2 separate regions of the Homo sapiens genome follow, and region 2 is linked to region 1. Evidence: fine-mapped expression QTL. A gene starts in region 1. The other region holds a variant in brackets. All regions are shown on one strand. Distances are from middle to middle.

The links.
Region 2: its variant is fine-mapped to the expression of TET3 in whole blood (INTERVAL, PIP above 0.99).

The regions. Positions count from the first base shown.
Region 1 is chr2:73,981,946-73,987,308 of GRCh38, forward strand. It overlaps TET3 (tet methylcytosine dioxygenase 3), which reads left to right and starts at 2,965. Exons shown (of 12, transcript NM_001287491.2): 1 at 2,965-3,212; 2 at 4,035-4,761. The coding sequence starts at 4,459. RefSeq lists enhancers at 1,341-2,264, 4,158-4,387 and silencers at 2,438-3,127, 2,886-3,084, 3,508-3,677.
Region 2 is chr2:73,826,260-73,831,616 of GRCh38, forward strand. It overlaps STAMBP (STAM binding protein), which reads left to right and starts at 2,702. Exons shown (of 10, transcript NM_213622.4): 1 at 2,702-3,251; 2 at 4,586-4,800. The coding sequence starts at 4,598. It overlaps LOC105374807 (a long non-coding RNA gene), which reads right to left and starts at 4,139. Exons shown (of 3, transcript XR_940246.3): 1 at 4,057-4,139; 2 at 2,498-2,645. RefSeq lists a silencer at 2,473-2,691 and an enhancer at 4,199-5,357. The variant A/G (reference allele first, on the strand shown) is at 3,178.

The DNA.
Region 1 (5,363 bases):
TTTGTGCAAGTCGTAAAGAAAGCAGGAAAGAAGCCTATGGGTCTTCAGTGTTACTGGGGTCTGTCATTCATTAGGGTCTACTCACCTCGTCTCTTCATTCAACACAGTGGTTGGTTGCTAGGTCTAGGGTTATGAGGTGAAAGACAGCGTGCTACCCTTCCAGGAGTTTGTAGTAACTGGGAAAGAAACATGCAAACCATTCCAGTGCCCAGCGCCGATGAGATAACTGTTCCTAGGCAGGGAGAGTCAAACTTCTGTGGAGGGAGAGTGGGTGGGGCTCTGGAATCATCTGAGCAGCTGGAGGTTTCATGGAACTGGCACTTATGACTTGCAGGATGAGTGGGAATTTGGCAGGTACAAGGGGTAGCTGAGAAGGGGTGGGGTGGGAAGGGTTTTTCCCCAGGCAGAAGGAATGAGCAACAGGACTGCCGAAGTGTAAGGTTCCAGAGGCCGGGAAGATATGACAGGCAGCTCTCTAGCCTGGCTGGGTTCCCTCCAACCTCTCTGGCGGCGCCTTCTCAGCTCCTGTCCCTCATGGGCTGGTATTCCCTGGGGCTCTGTCCTGGCAGCCTTTCCCTCTCACACTCCATATCCACCCTGGATGAGCTCCTCCACAACTGAGGCCTCGCTGTCTGCTCACTGATGGGGCCCAAATCTCAAACCCAGGCCTCACCCCCTCAGTTGCACACTCACTTTCACACGAATGTCTCCATCCCCAGGCATCCTTCCTTCTGCATTTTGTCACAGTGAATGGCACCAGCATTCACCCAGTTACCTAAACGAGAGGGCTTTATGAAATGACCCTCTCATAGATTGCTGGCAAAGAGTAAATGACACAGTAACTTGCTGGTGCCATTTACCCAGACAGAATACAAGAGGATGGCTGCTGGGCTCCTCTGAAAGTCCACAACTTACTAGCTGAGTGATCCTGGGCAAGTTATTTAATCTGTTTTCTTATCCATAAAATGGGTTTGATGATAGTACCTACCTCACAAGGTTGTCATATGGATTAAACAATATTAGTTGTTGTCATTCATTGAGCCCTATATTAAGTCTTTTACTTGGATTCCCTTGAAGATGGAGTACCTAGTCCAAGGTCACACTGTTACCAAGTGGCAGATTCAGGTTTGGAAGCCAGAGTTCTCTGGCTCCTGAGCCATCTTCTTCACCTCACTGTCACACTTTCTGAAAACTGTATACCAAACAGGGAAATGCCTATGGTACAATGTTAAGTTAAAAGAGGATGGCAAATTGTATAATCAGTGTGAGTAAATCCACAAATAGGAAAGGCTACAAGGAAATATAGCAAATGGTTAAATATGGTTGTAATTTGGTGATTTTTCCCCTCTAGTATCTGTAGTCTCCACGTCTTCTTTATACACATTTTTTATTAATAAAGTTGCTTATTAAAAATATATTACATTAAAAACAATTACGAGTCTGCAACCTGTTCCCCTGTTTGAAAATTGCACTCTCTTGGTTTTTCGTCTCGGTTCTAGTCTTACTACCCTGAACAGAAACTCTTCAGTCCTCCCAAAGGCCATGGTAGGAAGTGGATATTGCAGCCATGTTCACCCCCACCCACTCCCTCGCTGACAACCTGGACCCTGGAGCAGGCTGTCAAAATCAGAGGGAAGTTCCAGATAGAACCCGGGCTGCTTTACCGCCTAGGGCTTTCTGGACAGCGCTACTTCAGATCAGTTACTTTTTTTTCTTTCTTTCTAAATAGCCGGCCGAATGCTCTTTTTCCAGTTCTGGCTAAGCTGTTAGCTGCAGCCGGGCGGCGACGCCTGCCAGGTACCTGGCTCCGTGAGCACCGCCCAAACTGGTCAGGCCAGTCCGTCCTGTGGCTGTTTCTGCCAGGACTCGCCCGAGTGTGTGTGTGCGCGTGTATGTCAGAGACCCACCCTGCTCCCCTGCAACCGAGGTAGGTGGAAGGCAGTTGCAGGCACCAGCCTGGCAGTCAGGCCAGATGGGTGGGGCTGAATTAATCTAACCTGGAATTTCAACTTGGCCTGCACAACAGGTGAGGGAAAAAAGCAGCAGAGAGAACGGGCAGTTTGGCAACTTGGAAATATTCCTGAGCCCTGCCCCTTACCCCCTGCCTGGAACGTAGCCCAGGGTGACTCTTCAAAGTGTCTGCGCCGGGTTTTAGGGCTTAGTCGCCCCACGGCCCCCTCGAGGCTGTCCGAGGCCCTCCTGAACGCTGTCCTCCTCAGTTACCCTCCGCGACGCGCCCGTTCCCCCTCCTCTGGGAGGCAGGGCGGGGGTATCGGATTAGTCTTTGTTTTCGACGCGAAAGAATCGAGCGCGGCGCGGGGGAGGCTGGTGATGGCAGGGCCGTGGGGTCCACCTGGACAGGGCATTCGGCCGTGACCCCTGCGAGGGTGCCCTTAGCCTCTGCCCCCGAGCAACCCCTTCTTGCCGGCCAGGCTGACTCGGTACGCAAACGCGCGATGTCCCCCATTGTCCTGCCTCGGAATGAGCCAGCGGCAGCTGGGACAGGGGGGTCAGTCGGGCCCGGCGCTCAGGCCTCCCGGGGGCGCCGGGGCTGTCCCGGACAGATCTGGCCCGCAGGGAGTGGCAGGAAGTGGGGACACCGAGCGAGGCTCGGCCGAGGGCCTAGGCTGGAAGGTCCGCGTGCCCCACCCCGCCTCGCCGGCCCCGGCTGCAGCCCCGCCGGAGGGCGAGGGTGGCCAACCCGAAGGGGGCGGCCGCCTCCCGGGAGGGCCGACCGCGTGGGTGGGAGCCACTGCAGGTGCAGAGAAGCGGCGGCCGGGCCGGAGCCTGCCCCAAGCCGCTCGCAGGCCGCCCACCCGACCCCTCCCCTCCGCGGGAACCACCCCCCTCTCGCCCGGCCCGGGGCCCGGCCGGGCCGGCGGGGCTCGGCGGGGCCGCACGTGTGCGCCCTCCCGGGCGGGGGAGTCCCCGGGCGAGCACGTGCCGCGGTGCGCGGGGGGCGGGGAGTCCCGCGGACGCCTTCATTGCTGCTGCTGCTGCCGCCGCGGCCGCCGCTGCCTCTTCCTTCCTCCTGCGCCGTCCCCTCCTCGGCCCGGGCGGGGGGCTCCGCGCGCTGAGCTCGGTCGGGCCGGGCGCTCCGGGAGGCGGGAGCCCCAGGCGGCGGCGGCGGCGGCCGCGACGGTGGTGGCGGCGGCGGCGCGGGCCGGGAAACTTTGCCCCTTTGTGCGCTCCGCCCCGGAGGCGGCGGGCAGGTCGGTGCAGTCGGTGCCTTTCCGGCTCCGGAGTGGGGGAGGGGCGGCGGGAGGCGCGGGGGGCCCGGCCCGGGGGAGGGGGAGGGGACGGCCCGGATCCGGCGGGGGGCCGCTCCTCCGGTGCGGGGGGCCGGACTGGGGTGCTGCGGGGCGCTGTGCGGCTGAGCCGGGCGGGGGTGGCGGGGCGGGGGCGGGGGCTGCGAAGCCGCCGGAGCGGAGTGGCGGAGGCCCCAGAACAAAGGAGCCCGAGCGGCGGCGCGCGCGCGGCCCGGCCCGCGGCTCGAGCGCGCCCCCCTCCCCGCGCCCCTCGGCGGCGCGGGCCGCCCTCCCCAGTCGGGCTGGCGGGCTGCGCTCCGGCGGCGGGCGCGGCGGGCGCGGGCTGCCCAGGGCGCGCCCCCACCTCCAGGCGGCTTCCGTGCCGGGGGCGCCGGGGCAGTCCCGCCGAGCGAGGCTCTCAGCAAACTTTATTTTGAAAGCTCAGCTCCCTAGGGAGGGCCCGGCGGCCTCCAGCCAGGGCGTGTGGGGGAATTTTGGTGAAACTCTCACCAGCCCGTGGGGGTGGGGAAGAGGGCAACTTTCTTAGAAATCTCACCTTGATCACCCCCTTGAATCCAGGGCCCCCAGCAGCCCTCAGGCCCGAGGCCGCCTCCCTCAGACAGGGAGCGGGTGCTGGGTGCGTCCTGCCTGAGGTTCTGGGCAGGACCTCAATTGAGCAAGCCCCATCTCTTCCCCCATTTTCTCTTCCCAGAAACAGGAAGAAGTGACACGTGAAAGTTGTCCCTGAGCCCCGAGTGATGCGCTTCCCCTTTCTGTCTTTTTCAGGCAGCACTGCCTTCTCCAGCGTCCAGACCCTGGAGGAAAAATACCAGGAGAAACTGCTCACTCAGCTCTGCCCCCACCACACCCCTACCTGCTCAACTCATGCCTGGGTCCAGGGTGGGTGAGGGTGAAGAACCCACCGGGCCAAGATGATCCCTTTTCTGAGGGCTGCTGCTGGTGTCCTCCCCCAGATCCTGGGCCCCAGCAGGTGGGAGAGTGGCCCCCTACGGAGTCCGATCAGACTGCTGCAGAGGAGGTGAAGAGGGGTTGAGAAGAGGCATCCATCCACGAGACTGAAGCCACTTGCCTTCACCCTTGTAGACTCTTGACTGTTCTAGGCGAGAAGGACCTGTTGGTGGCCTTTGGAGGTGGCAGGAAACGACTGTGGTTCTGCCCCAGCACCTATGACCCCACCTCTGGCAGCATCATGAGCCAGTTTCAGGTGCCCCTGGCCGTCCAGCCGGACCTGCCAGGCCTTTATGACTTCCCTCAGCGCCAGGTGATGGTAGGGAGCTTCCCGGGGTCTGGGCTCTCCATGGCTGGGAGTGAGTCCCAACTCCGAGGGGGTGGAGATGGTCGAAAGAAACGGAAACGGTGTGGTACTTGTGAGCCCTGCCGGCGGCTGGAAAACTGTGGCGCTTGCACTAGCTGTACCAACCGCCGCACGCACCAGATCTGCAAACTGCGAAAATGTGAGGTGCTGAAGAAAAAAGTAGGGCTTCTCAAGGAGGTAAGCCGGCCCTTGCTGGGCTACCCTGTTCCTTCCTCGAGGGCACGGTGATCACGGGGGTCTTGTTCAAGCAAGGCTCGTCCAGTTGAGTCCATTCTCTCATTTCTGATCCTCTTGGTCCAACTTTAAGTAGGAGTGTAACTGACATGTTTGGACTCCTTTGCAGGGCTGACAATTTGTATGAGTAACTGGGTAGAAGGGGGATCTGAGCTAGCACCCTCATCTCTGATGTTTGCATTTGAGGCGGGACTGTGATGTCTACCTTTACCTCTAGAAGTTTCTTGTCCTGCTGCTTGAAGCCTCAGATGTTGTATTTCAAGCTCATGCTAATGCTTGGATGACTTGGTCAGTGAGGGTGTAAGATAAGAGATGGAGGCTGATGGATTTGGAGACAAAGTTTTGGATTGACAGGGTGGTTTTATGATGCCCTGATGGAGTGGGATGTTTCTTTCATCGTTTTTCTCAGATGGCCAGAGAGCCAGTTGAAACTGTTGGGGAATCTAGTGACGAACTGATGTTTTGGGTTCCCCTATCTTAGTTCTTCTTGCGGTCAAAAACTTTATTTCTGTGTTCTCGGGACCTGGCACAATTCCTTGGCAGGT
Region 2 (5,357 bases), 160 kb before region 1:
TTTTAGCAATAGGAGTCTCACTATGTTGCCCAGGCTGGAATGCAGTGGCTATTCACAGGTGAGATCATAGCACACCACAGCCTTAAACTCCTGGGCTCAAGTGATCCTCCTGGGTTTTTTGTTTGTTTTGTTTTGTTTTGTTTTTTTAGAGGTCTCACTCTGTTGCCCAGGCTGGAGAGCAGTGGTGTAATCATAGCTCACTATATCCTCGAACTCCTGGGCTCAAGCGATCCTCCTGTCTCAGCCTTCCAAAGTGCTGGGATTACAGGCGTGAGCCAGCGCACCTGGTCCAGGCCTGTGTTTTCTAAACCCCGATGTTACATTTCAGATTAAGAACTTCACCTTCTAGGCATCTTTTGCTGCTGCCCAAAAATGAGCAAGTAGGAATGAGCATGCAGGAGTGCAGGAGACCTGACGTTGGCATATGCAAGCGGCCAGATGGAGGCTGCTATATTCAGGAAAAGTGTTCATGGCTGGGAGTGAGCACCGGAAGGAAAGAGCATCTCAATTCCTAACCTGGTCTAGTCTGCCAGGTGAACTGCTGAAGCCTATTTGCTGAAGGAATACCTTCCACGCTTAGCCTCCAATCTTTAGGGCAGGGGTAGGTAGGATATTCTCATCAGTTATGCCAAGAATCTTTTATAGCTTTGATTTCCTGATTGTGTATACAAAATTGTTTAGTTTTTAAACTTTTCCAGTTAAACAAGAAATGAGGAATGTAAAATTTTTACCTTGGCCAAGATTTTCTTATTTCAGGTCCCTAGAAAGCTGAGTATTGAACTTTGCCCCAGATATCAAAAACTCTGGTCAACATTTACAAATTCTCTCCCTAAAAAGACTAGATCCTGCTTCCTATATTCACTTAGCTATTACCTTAAGAACTGCTAGCAACTGGGCATATTAACTTTCTAATATCAGGAACAGCCTCTATGTGGCGCTAGCTATGTTTACGACTATGCACACCCCTTATATGTGTGTCTCAGTTATAGCTTCTTAAAGTCTTCTCATCATAATCTTAAAATCTAGGATGTTTGTAAATTTTCTTTACTTGTTAAGCTAAACATTATAAAAAAAAGAACTACTTTAGAGATTGTGCTGAATGGGAGCAGATGCCCCTCCCTACCCCACCAGCTGTACTTCTACCTGTGCTTCCACCATTAGAGTATCCACCTGCTGGGTTTGTTTGCTGATGTATCCCTAACACCTAGAACAGAACCTGGCACATAGTAGACACTCAGTAAACATTTACTGAGTGAGAGGTTGAATGGATCAGATTTTGACCTGTGTTGCCTCCTGCCAGGACCCCATCTGCACTATAATGCCCACCCAATGACCAGCATCTCCAGTGCATCAATTTCTTTAGGCCCAACCCATCATGTTTACATTCTGAAGAGAGTCAGTAGAGAGAGTTTTGAAGACACAGTAGAGTGCCCTATACAATTATCTTCCCAGATTTATCTGCAGTAGATCCATGAGAGTTGATAGTAGACCCATGCACATTAATGCTTGCTGGGGGCAGAAGGGGAGGTGATATGATGCAAGCAAGTACTTTCAACCCTAAGTCTGAAAAGTTGATGACTACACAAAATCACTTCAGGTAACTCCAACAGAAATATACACAACGGAGGTTGGGAGAAATGAGAGATCTGGAGGCTGGCTAGGTGGAGGAGGCAACACCTGAATTAGGGATTTAAGCTAGACCTTGAAGAATAGGTCATGCCATCACACTAACAAACTCACAGGGAGGCTCCCAAATTTTGGGAAAGTGTCCCCCAGAGACTTAGACTTTTAAACCAAAGCCTAATGTTTCACAAAGTCTTCTGAGACAGAATGATTAGCAAGCTTGTAGGACCTTTTTGTAAAGAGGATGTATATGGATTCGTACAGACACACATCTACATGCAGAACGTGCCATTCTGTATTTGATGCATAAAACCACCTTGTCCCGGTCTCAGGGCAGGAACAGTGTCATACAGATTTTTGTGTCTCCACTGCTTTTGCATAGCGGCTCTTAGAGATTAAACGCTTTTTTTCCAAATATTTTATAGGTTTTTTGACATTAAAACGTTAGTCTCATCTGGGTGCGGTGGCACACGCCAGTAATCCCAGTACTTTGGGAGGCAGAGGCAAGAAGATCGCTTGAGCCCTGAAGTTGGAGACCACAGTGAGCTATGATCACACCACTGCACTCCTGTGACAGCCTGGGTGACACCGCAAGACCCTGTCTTAAAAAAAAAAAAAGTTAGACTTATGTTCTTTTCTAAGCAATAAAATTAGTCTTAGATATTGCCTAATATCTAAGACTACCAATTTTTGTGTAGAATGTAATACAAGCTAAAAAATACATTCGAAAGACTTTCTGTCCCCCAATTTATAAATCCTGGTTAGTTTAGCTAAGTCTGCAGTTGTGCTGGGATCAGCAATCCCTCCTTAAATGCAGGAGTATTGTGAGTGTGATGAGGGACTACCCCAAATCAAAATAATTTTAAAAGCAAACCTTAGCTTGCTAATTGGTTCCACTTTCTTCCTTGTTCCTTTTCCTTTACCAAGATGGCCGCTGTGTCGTTCGCTCCTCATTGGTCGGATTTTCCGCAGGTGCCGATTCTAGCCCCACCTACTAGCTCTCCGTTCCAAGTCCTAAATCACTGGGAATGTAATAGACAGACGAACGGGAGTGGGCGGAGCGGGCGCCGGATGTGACGTTTCCGGAACCTCCGGGTGTCATCCGCGGGGAAAGGTGGGGAAGGGTCCCGGGAACGTGGTGGGGCAGGGCCTCCGAGCGTGGTTGGACTTTGAAGGGGATCGGCCGCCGTGAGTGTGGGGCCTGCAGCCTACTCTCCCCGAGTCCCCTGCCCGGCCTGCCTCGCTCGAGGCACCCGACGGCTTCTGTCTCCGCGGGCTGGCGCCTGACCAGCCAGGCCCAGCGGTTCCCCGCCTACTGCATTTGAAAGATCCCGAAAACCCTGGATGATTGTGCCTGGGGTTGGCAAGTTCGTCTTGAGTGCCTTCAAGAAGGGTTCCTCAAGCAGTTGTCGATAGAGCCCTCCCTACTGTATACGCCCCCTCCGCTCATTCCTGCTACTTCCTTTCTCCTCCTCGTATTTCCCCCTCGGTCCTTTACGCCGCCTTTCCCCCTCATTTGCAGATGCTGCATCCCCTTTTTGGAATTGCTCAACC[A/G]GGTGGTAACCGGCGCCGCTTCCTGGCCTTGGGAGGTGGTTCCTTTCTTAACCCACAAGAACCTCTCCCAAGAGGTACTGAGATGCAACAAGCATCCTCTGTTTCAGTTAACTTTCATGGGCCGTGGACTAGGTTTACTAATTACTTGGGGAGGTTTTAGATATGCTTGCGGCTTTCTGAGTCCCTAAGGAGGCCTCGTGAGAGATGGACTATCTCTGCATCCCTAGTAGTCCTCACGGCTTTTGTGCTATTAGTGAGGGTGTTTTAGAGGGGAAGGTTTGTGGAGGAATTGTGACCCGAATATTGAAGAGACCTAAAGATGGAATTGGCTGAGAGAAGACTACCCCTGAGGGAAGAGTTGTAGTAGAAAAGAAAAACTGGATAGATAAATGAAACTGAAATGTGAGGATGCCTGGGCGGATTGGAATCCTGACTGAAGCAAAAGATCTCTGTTGGGGAGGGCCAGTTGCCACAGGGCCTTGAATTCCAAGATTTATTCTACTGTAGTTTGTGTATTCTAGAGCATACTGATTAGGGTTTGCTGTAATGCAATGTGTGTCAAATGCCCAGTTTTATTTTGGAGATGATAGTGGTGATATCTGGTTGGAATTTGGAATCTGATTCTAACAGCAACTATATCTAGAAAGACTAGAATTACTGGAGTTTTGGGACACCAGGGGTTTTTGCAATGCAAGTTACCATCGTGCCTTTTTGTTATTCAGTGTTTAGTCTATGAAGATGAGTAAATGGTTGTTTTCAAGATTTAAGTCTCTTGCCATGATAATGATGAATGAATGATTTTATAGATTGACTATAGTGGTTTAGTGAGCAGAGTTACAATTATGAGCATTAATTCCCAGACCAGTTCCCCTAACTCACCTTGTGCTCAAATATGAAAAAGGATACCACAGAAAATGTCAGTTACTCTCAGATTAAGTAAAAATGGTCAACCTTGAAGTTAGTTAACAATCCTCAAGAAAGTTCACTGAGTGCACTCTGCCAGGTACTGGGGTGGAGGTATGTGGGTATCTGGAAGGAGAAATAATAGAAAATAAAAGATGCTGTTCCCACTTTTACAGTGCTGTGGGCGGAGCCCCCTAATGGCAAAGGATTTGATTAACTTGAACTGAACCTTTGGTTGGTCCACTGTGGTTCTACTCCTTATACCACCTAATTATGGTACAGGGGTTGTATGTTTTCTAGTCTGCCAGTACTCTCATCGTTGTGATTTGGGCTTCCTTGAGGGTCTCAGCCTTCTTGTAGGAAAGTCCTTATTTAATAGGAGCCACAGCATTTGGTATGTTTCTCTTATATTTTCTTCTTAAGGTAGAGGTCTGTGAGATAAACTGTAAAACTGCTGGGATGATGAGGGCAACGGTATTGATGCCATCTGTTTTTTCTGTCTCAGAACTTGGTCCTGATGTCTGACCATGGAGATGTGAGCCTCCCGCCCGAAGACCGGGTGAGGGCTCTCTCCCAGCTGGGTAGTGCGGTAGAGGTGAATGAAGACATTCCACCCCGTCGGTACTTCCGCTCTGGAGTTGAGATTATCCGAATGGCATCCATTTACTCTGAGGAAGGCAACATTGAACATGCCTTCATCCTCTATAACAAGTATATCACGTAAGACACCTACAGTTTCCTTTTTCCTTTCTGGTGACTGGTGCCTCGCCTATTTGGCTCAGAATTGCTAAAACCACAGAACTTCACAATATCATCAACATTAATCATTTTTGCTGGCAACTCCTACATATTGGCTGTCCTTGCCGTTCAAAGACATGAGTGCTGAAGGTGTTATTTTCATGACTCAGTAATTTATGAGTAAGAGATTTAGTTCTTTGGCCTATGCCCACATAGCCCAGCTGTTAGACAAAAGAGTTGGTGGTTAAACTAGACATATTATGTTCTGATGAATGCTTTTACTGTTCTCTTTCTACTAAAGCAGCCAATCATAGGATTATTGTTGGGGTCTAGCAGAGCCAAAATTCCTCACTTGTACTTATTTTGTAGCAAATTTAGTGATACAGGAAAAAATTTTTTCCTCTTAACCTTTATCATAATCATGCAAATCATCAAATAATTAGTAACTGCCTACAGTTTGTGTGGCTCATCATAATAAGACCTTTCCCTTAAGTTATTTATCATCTTAGGGTAGGCAGCATAAGTAGAAGATTTCAGTA